Linked DNA regions of Homo sapiens: regions 2 and 3 are each linked to region 1. Evidence: fine-mapped expression QTL. A gene starts in region 1. Each other region holds a variant in brackets. All regions are shown on one strand. Distances are between the middles of the regions. Region 1 holds the start of EPHA1-AS1 (EPHA1 antisense RNA 1). Region 2 overlaps EPHA1-AS1 (EPHA1 antisense RNA 1). Region 3 has its middle 120 kb from the start of PRSS1.

Evidence for each region. PIP is the estimated chance that this variant, and not a neighbour inherited with it, causes the effect.
Region 2: its variant is fine-mapped to the expression of EPHA1-AS1 in whole blood (TOPMed, PIP 0.90).
Region 3: its variant is fine-mapped to the expression of EPHA1-AS1 in neutrophils (BLUEPRINT, PIP 0.95).

The regions. Positions count from the first base shown.
Region 1 is chr7:143,406,552-143,409,051 of GRCh38, forward strand. EPHA1-AS1 (EPHA1 antisense RNA 1) reads left to right here and starts at 1,262. Exons shown (of 5, transcript NR_033897.1): 1 at 1,262-1,335. It overlaps EPHA1 (EPH receptor A1), which reads right to left and starts at 2,305. Exons shown (of 18, transcript NM_005232.5): 1 at 2,173-2,305; 2 at 1,060-1,127. The coding sequence starts at 2,254. RefSeq lists an enhancer at 2,377-2,500.
Region 2 is chr7:143,430,360-143,433,208 of GRCh38, forward strand. The region is part of intron 2 of EPHA1-AS1 (EPHA1 antisense RNA 1); the gene reads left to right. Among named protein-coding and RNA genes, the nearest start is that of TAS2R60, 12 kb to the right of the region's middle. The variant T/C (reference allele first, on the strand shown) is at 1,404.
Region 3 is chr7:142,628,909-142,631,757 of GRCh38, forward strand. It overlaps TRB. Among named protein-coding and RNA genes, the nearest start is that of PRSS1, 120 kb to the right of the region's middle. The variant T/C (reference allele first, on the strand shown) is at 1,567.

The sequences.
Region 1 (2,500 bases):
ACCTGATTACAGCCGATGGAACAGAAGTATAGGTGACAACATGTTACTTGTGATTGTTGTCTAGAGGAGGGCAGTCTTGTGGGGCTGAGCCCTCAACCTGAGGCTATCTCCAGGTAGATAGTGTAAGAACTGAATAAGATTAGAGGACACTCAGCTACTGTCCACTGAAGAATCTGCCAGAGAGAACTGACTGCAGGCGGGAGGAATCCCTACACGCATTTTGGTGACCACAGGTCACCGAAGTGATTTGTGTTGAGAGTGCAGTAGGAAAAAACTGAGTTTGGTTTTTTGTACATCATAAGAGCTGCTCTCTGCATTTGAGTCTGAATATGCTCTCTCAGACCCACCTCACAACCTGTTCACTGAGTCTTAGGAACATCCAAGGAAGGAAGGGAACTGGAACAAGCTCTGACACTTTCAAACAGCTGGAATGCATGGTGTGCACGCAGTCAGCCTGAGGAGGTGTGGAGGATGAGCTAAGGGCTCAGAAACCTTTAGGGGAGCAGCTTTTAACTTCGGAGGAGTCAAAGACCCTTTGAAGAATTTGATGAAAGCTTTGGCTGGTCTCTCCAGAAAAAAAAATGCCCGCTTACATATACAGAATTTAGAGTACACTTTCATGGGGTTTCCCCACCCCCTGAAACCTATCAATGCAACTTCATTGGGATGAATGGATCTCAGATTGAGGATGCTTTTCTGCCTTTTCTATCCCTCCCCAAGCAAAGCACTGGTCTCAGCCTTCAACCATCCCCAGCATGGTGCATTCTCTCCCCGGGTATGTGAGCTCCTCTCCCCCTCACAAGTATCAGCTTGTATTCACAATATTCCCAAGTATTCACTGGAGGAGCCAGGCCATTCAAGCGTTCATCTTGAGGTGAAGTCTGACCCCCCCACCCCTTGTCCCATTGAGGAGGCTCTGACTCAGCCTCCTCTCCCCCTCCCTGAGGAGACACTTCCAGTTTTTCCTGCTCTTTTCTCTGTTCCTCCACCCACCTCTCCACCCCATTTCCCACTGGCCTTCAGGAGTTTTCCAAGATCCTTCCCTCTTCCGACACTTACCCCATCTTTTGGGGGATCCAGCAGCCAGCCCAGCTCTCCCTGTGCCTTGCTTGTGTCCATCAGAGTAACTGAAAGTGGGGAGAAAAGAAGTCTGTCACCTCTGGGGGAGGAGGTGCCCCTGCAGCCCACATTAATCATTCTGGGGCCTCAGCCCCAGGCTGCAACATCCTGTTCCTAAAAGCTGTGACTTCCTGAGGCTTAGGGGAGAAAAAGGGCTCAGGACTGAGGAGTGAAGAGCTCCAGGGATTTCACTCTTCTTTGTGTGTGTGAAGGAAGGCAGGTAGAGTGGGACAAGGGTTGGGGCGCTGGGTCTTTGACCAAAGTCAATGCAAGAAGAGCAGCCCCACGAGACGCTCAGTTACCCAGGCTGCTGCGTCCTGGGACACCCATCAGCTGCAGGATTGGAACGCGTGGAGGGCAGGAGGAGCTCACCTCTGCTAGCCAGGAGTGGGCAGGGTGGACCGGGGACCTCAGAAGGGGTTTCCTGGGTAGGGAGGCTCACCTCCACTGTCCGAAGCCTGCTTTGGCCTGACCTGGCCAGTGATCAGAGCCGTGAAGTGGGGATAAGAGGCACAGCTACCTGCCTGGGAAGTGGGGGGGAGTAAGGCCGGAGAGGGTGTTCCAACTTTCACATGGAATATTCGACTCGGACAACTGGGAACCCCTGTGGCGTCAGTCCTAACCCTTCTCCCGGAGGCAGCTCCCTCTGTCCCTGGCCTAGGTTGGCAGGAGGCGACTTCCCACCTTCAACTTCCAAGGGCTCAGATCTCTGGGGTGGGCACCTGAAGCTGGGACTGTCTGGGAATGCAGGCAGGGGTGCGGGTGCAGGTGCTACTTCCTGGCAAGGGTCCGGAATTCCCTCCCCACTCCCAGGAGCAGATTGCTGGCCTGCGGGAGTGGGGGTGACTGACCCGGGAGAGCAGCCGCTTGGGGTTAAAGACCAAAGATGGGCCTGGCCAGTCGATAGCCTGGCGGTCGGGCACAGCGAGAGAGCTGGCGAGGGTCTCGGGGAACATGGCCCCTAGGAATGCCGGCTTCTGCAGGGGGGTGCTGGCCGGGCCCCGGGAAGGGGCGGGGCGCGGGGGTTGGGGGCGCGGGGGCGGGGGTCGGTACCTTCCTTGGCGCGCGCCCCCGGGGGCAGCGGGGCGCAGAGCAGCAGCACCAGCCCTAGCCCCAGGGGCCAGCGCCGCTCCATAGCTCCGGGCCGGGACCTGGGACAGTGGCCCGGATGGCAGCGCCAGGTTGCAAGGGACTAGGAGAGCCGGGCGGGCCGGGCGGGGGCGGGGGGCGGGGCCAGCGCCGGGGGCGGAGTCCCGGCCTCACCTGGTTCACCTCCTTAAAGGGACAGTAGGGCAGGAAAGAAACTTGCTAGACTGGTAATCAAATTCAAGAACCGGAGGCGTCTTGACCCGAATGAGACTGCGGGCGCCGCCTAGTAGGT
Region 2 (2,849 bases), 24 kb after region 1:
GAAAAATTATTATTTGAGAAATGGAAATCTTGGATTAGGATTTTTTTTGCAAGATGATTAAGCCATTTTAGAAACATGACTCATATTGTCTTCTGCCCTTTCTTCCTCTAAGTAATTATGAAGAACACATACTTGGAAGATTTTAATAAAATTATGAGTAATATTAGATCACTTTAATTCCTGTTTACGGAGGACAGCAGTCAAGTACCTAACTGTGAGAGGAAAATGAATCTTTGCTTCTAGGAGGCACCATGATTTACGAAAACCAAAGAGGGCCAATTTGACTGTTTTTACTTGTACCCCTCTCCTTCTTGACTTTTCTCATTTTTTCTTAAGATTTTGTCAAAGTGATATATGCATCTAGACCAAAGAGCCAGGTATTTCTGCTTAAAGGGACATTTCTTTGTTTGTTTTTTTAAAAATAGAGGCTTTCGTTTCCATCCTCTTCCAATTCCTGTTTCCCAAGGCAACTACTTTCAACTCTTTTACCTGGTGTGTGTGTGTGTGTGTGTGTGTGTGTGTGTATGTGTGTGTGCATGTGCACGTGTATGTGCATGTGTGTGTGTGTGTGTGTGCTTTCCGCTATGGAATATGAACCTTTAGTTCTTCCTCACCCTCATTCCCCTGGCAAACACCTTCTGTCTCCCACTTTTCAATATAGTTTTATTGTAATGGTAAAATCAATATTTAGTGTTTAAAATATTATGCCAATGCAAATGCTATTCATGGTGAAACCATGTATTAAACTGCAATTAATTTTTCTTTCCTGTACACATTTTTGTTTCCATTGATTTAACAATTACCTTGTTTTGTTTGCTTTTTGTTCTCAATTCCATCATCAAGTATCCTCAAATTTTATTTGCCTGAGAAAATTTCTCCTGGGGCTTCATATCCTGCTCCAGTCTGGACTTATGCTCAGGCCTGATGTACCTCCCTCCATCCTGGGTCTGCCTTTACAGTCCTCCTGGTGGCCTCCTCCGCCTGTCTCTCACCTTTCACCTCATGTTGCCTGGACTCATGTCTTCCTTTATCATGCCTACTCTCCCGCTTTGGAGGGACACATTTTCCAGTATCCTCCAGAAAAAGAGAACATAAAAAATTAACTTTATTTGGAGACTTTGCTTGCCTGAAAAGCCTTTATTTTGTCCTTGTACTTGAGTATCCAGATAGAGAATTCCAAGGTAGAGATAATTTTCCTTCTGTATATTGAAGACATTGCTCTGTTGCCTTCTAGCTTCCAAAATTACTATGGAAAAGTCTAAAATAAAATTCCTAATATTATATTTTGAATTTAGTATTTTTCCTCTCCTTTTCCTCTCTAAAAGCTTGTAGGAACTTCTCTTTGTGCTCAGTTTTCTAAAAGTGTATGAAATGAGACAGATACTTGGTGAGTCTTTCTAATA[T/C]GAAGAGTCGCGTCCTTTAGCTTTGGGAACTTTGCATCTATTTTGTTGATTTTTTTCCCACCATTTATGACATCTCTCTGTTTAGAACTCCTATTTCTTGGTTATTAGACATCCCAGATTGGCATTCTGTTTTGTTTTTAACCTATGGGTTTATTTGCTCTCTTTTCTGAGATATTTAATAAATTTTAGCTTTCAGCTCTTCTATTGACATTTAATCTCAGATATTGTCATTTTAATTCCAAGAACTTTCTTTTAAAAAATTTTGAGTATTTCTTTTAAACAGTAACCTGTTGTTTTGTATGTTATTATTATATTCTCATAACTCTGAGAATACTGATATCATTTTGGCAAAGCTTTCTTCTCCTTGCATTGTTTTCTTCCTCCAAATACCTGTTTTGTTTTGGTCTTATTTTCCATGCTAGGTGCCATTCTCAGATGTCCCAAGCTCCTCGTTGTCTGCTCCTGTGCAAAAGAGATGGAAAGGCTGATTGGAAACTCTGAACTCATGAATGGGACTTGTTAATTATGGGCTTCACTGTAAAGTGATTGGCTGGACTAATTATTTGAGGAATATCTGATATTGTCTTTATGTCTTCCTTTTAGAATGTTTGAGTTCTTGGAAAAGACGATACTCATCTGCCTGTAGGGTAAAAGCCTGGGTTCCGGAGTTCTAAAAACCATGTGAGAGGAGAGCATTTGCTCACCTAATGTCCCTGTCTCAGTATAGTACCCTTGTCTCAACTGTGCTATAGATACATCCAGCTCAGTGATCCCATTTTATCCTTTCCAGACAATACTAGGGTGAGAGAGTGGTGGTTGCCCAGGTATACAAAGTGATTTGGGAATCTGAATCTTAAACTGACTTTTAACTAGTTTTTCTCTAGAGGAACCTGGTATGGCAAATCTTGGGTAAAAGTCGGTTCATTCTTGACTTTTCCTTCTGCTTGGATAGAATTCTGTTTTCTTAGGGCTGTTGTATCTTTGATCACTCTTCTATCTATTTTATTTGGATTTATGCCTTAATTTCAATTTTTTTTTTTTTTTTTTTTTTTTTTTTTTTTTTTGAGATGGAGTCTCTCTGTAGGCCAGGCTGGAATGCAGTGGCGTGATCTCGGCTCACTGCAACCTCCACCTCCCGGGTTCCGGTTCAAGCAATTCTCCTGCCTCAGCCTCCCGAGTAGCTAGGATTACAGGCACATGCCATCATGCCCAGCTGATTTTTTTTTGTATTTTTAGTAGAGACGGGATTTCACTATGTTGGCCAGGCTGGTCTTGAACACCTGACCTTGTGATCTGCCCGCCTTGCCCTCCCAAAGTGTTGGGATTACAGGGGTGAGCCACTGCACTTGGCCTCAAAAATCTTTCACAGTTAATTTAGAAGAGTTTTGGGGAGCAAAGGAAAGAAGGTGGGTTGATGCAATCTGTCCTTACCCCTCTTGTTGACTT
Region 3 (2,849 bases), 780 kb before region 1:
TAATGTGCTTTTCATAAAGCTAAAAACAAGTCAAGAAAATAATTTTCAGGACTAAAATATATTAGAACAAATTATATTGAAAGGAAAGCAAAGATGAGTTGTATGCTGGAGCCTACTTTATCAGCTCATGGGAGCTGACTGTATACATTTTTCCCAACTCCAGTTTTAGTGACATCATTTTGTTAGCTTGAAATTGGCCATAGTGAGGGTATTTACACTACAGAAATTAGCAAACACAGCAAATTACGGTTTGCTTTATTTTCCTCCAGACTTAGCTGTCAACCCTTTACCCTTTACCAACACACTACTGGCAGGGAATAATAATGACCCAAGTTCAGGATTTTTATAAGGCTGGGGCATGGCAGGAAATAGAATGAGAGAGAACTATATGGCTATACATTGAAATATTATCAAGGTCTATCTTGCATAATGTTGAGGAGGAGAAGTTTTACAAGTTCCTATTATGTTTTTTAAAAATATTCATTGACAAGCAATGCCTGTGTGTTATGAACCACAGGTTAAGATAAATAAAATTGAATGCATATAGCATCAAAAAGAAGAGAAAACAAATAAATGAATAGATTAGAGTTCTTACAAGAAAAGGATCAAGGGCATTTTATAGTCAAAACCAGGAGTGAAATAGCAGTGGCTTAACTGCTACCATCCTCATATAGATATCGGCTGCTGAATTAATCACAGCGGACAACCTACCACCCAACAGACCTGGACCCTTGTCAACCCTTTGCAACACAGAACAGGGGTTTAGACAATAAGGGTGAACGTGAAAGCGTGGAGATGACACCTGGCCCCTGACCAAGGTGGAACTGACTGGAACAAGATGGGAGCCAATTCTGCAGTGAACACGCTGCTGCTTTTCGTCTCCGCTATGACCGTGTGTTGCTGGTGGTTAAATACCCCACCTGGGTTCAGTCACCTCAGACTGTGCCATTGCCACTGATCTCAGGACCCACTTTAGTTGTAGCCTTTTACTCTGTTAGCGTTTTCAGCCTGGAGAACAGAGCTAGTAAAATACTTATAAAATATTCCACTGCTTCACTAACGGCATGGAAAAGACAAGAGCTTTTAAGGCTCTGGCATGAAACAGGGAGACAGTGGTTACATTCCTATTTCACGCAGTCACTATTTCCGTCTACGTTAAGCTGAGGAGTGTAGTGTTTCGGTGACATTTAGCATGGAACGCTGCTGGGTTCAGACCTGACATTCCCAAACCAGCTGACTGTCAAGGACACAGCCTACTGCCTACCTATATTACCTTAGGAAACGAGACAACAGCATTGAACAGCATTCAGTCCATATTTGTGTTCTGTCTTCCTTGGACAAGTACCAACAAAATAAAATCCTATCACATTTCCTGTAAATTTTGAATGACATAAATTTTTGATTAGCAATTCTTTTTGAAGTGTTGAACTTTTTGTTCTGATTTTATATTCTACTCTCTGTGCTTTGTTGTATTTAAAATCAAGTTCACCTTTCAGAGGCAGTGATGGGTGAGGTAAGAGACAGACTCTTACATCCTCCTCCCCAACACACACACACACACACACA[T/C]ACACACACACACACACACACACACGGAGGCACTGTTTTTCCCAGTAATGGAGAAGCCATGGGAAGAATTTCAGAGGTTTCAAGGGAGCTAGGGTCGTCTAATTCCTCTATATCCTTGGATATCCCCATTCTTAATGTCAAAAATAATCTCTCGAACTGGTTTCCCAGAGTCTCAACCCATTTGCTATAGTACATGCACCATCTCAGGTGTCCAAAGATGAATATTTGATAAGCTACTTCTCAACTTCATACCTCTGCTGCTGTTTTTCCATTCTGGAATGTGGAAAGCAGTGTGACTCCTATTAACTGACCAGTAGTCAATTTTAACTACCCATAAATATGTGAGTGTCTTTTATCTGTAATCTCCTATCTGGTGCCATTTTTGAAAACCAGTTAAGACTCTTTTATCCTAAAAAATGAACTATGTCTAATTTCTTGAAAGTAATTATTGATGAAATACTCCCTGGAGAGTCTGAAGCCCCTGATATTGCATATTTAATTGTTATCCTCCTTTTAATAAAAGGTATAGGAAGAAATTTTAAATATTATTCCTAAATACCTTACATCAAGATGAGCTAGAGTTAATTAAGTGGGACGAGGGATAATGAATTCAAGGGCATTTAAGAAAGATTAAAGAACCAGTGCAAAATGTTTTAATCAGGAAAGAAATTAGTGTGTTTAATGACAGGAAAGAAGTCAGCAGAGTGACAGGAGCAGGGGGAGGAGGTGGTTGAGTACAGGGCAAAATTGAAGAAGGCAGGAAGGCACCAGACCACTCAGAACCTTACTGGTCAAGGTAAATGATACAGAATCCAACATAAAGCTTAATAGGAGACACTGAGGTTTTCAACATTTGACTTCTTTAGTAATCAGATTCGTGGCTGTGTGTGTATCTGTGTATTTAATCACCCTGGTCACAAAGTGAAGAAATAATGGACCATGCAGGGAAGGCAAAATGTTACCTCTACCCTCTTGCAGTTTTTCGGCTGGTCCTGAGAATGGAAGATTAACAGGAAGGAAAGCATACACATGTATTTAATACAAGTTTTACATCACATGAAAGCCCCCATAATTAAAGGAAGAACTGAATGTGCAGTTAGAGTTGAACATTCATATATTGAATTGGGCAAAGGGTCATACATTGTGGAAAGGTGAAAAAGTAAAGGGGCTTAGGCTAGGGTTGCTGGTTGAATGGCAAAGTGACTAGGAAGGTGAGGATTAGTTTAACAAGCTTTTTTTGTTACAGATTCCTTGGCCTCAACATCATCCCATTCTATCTTGGA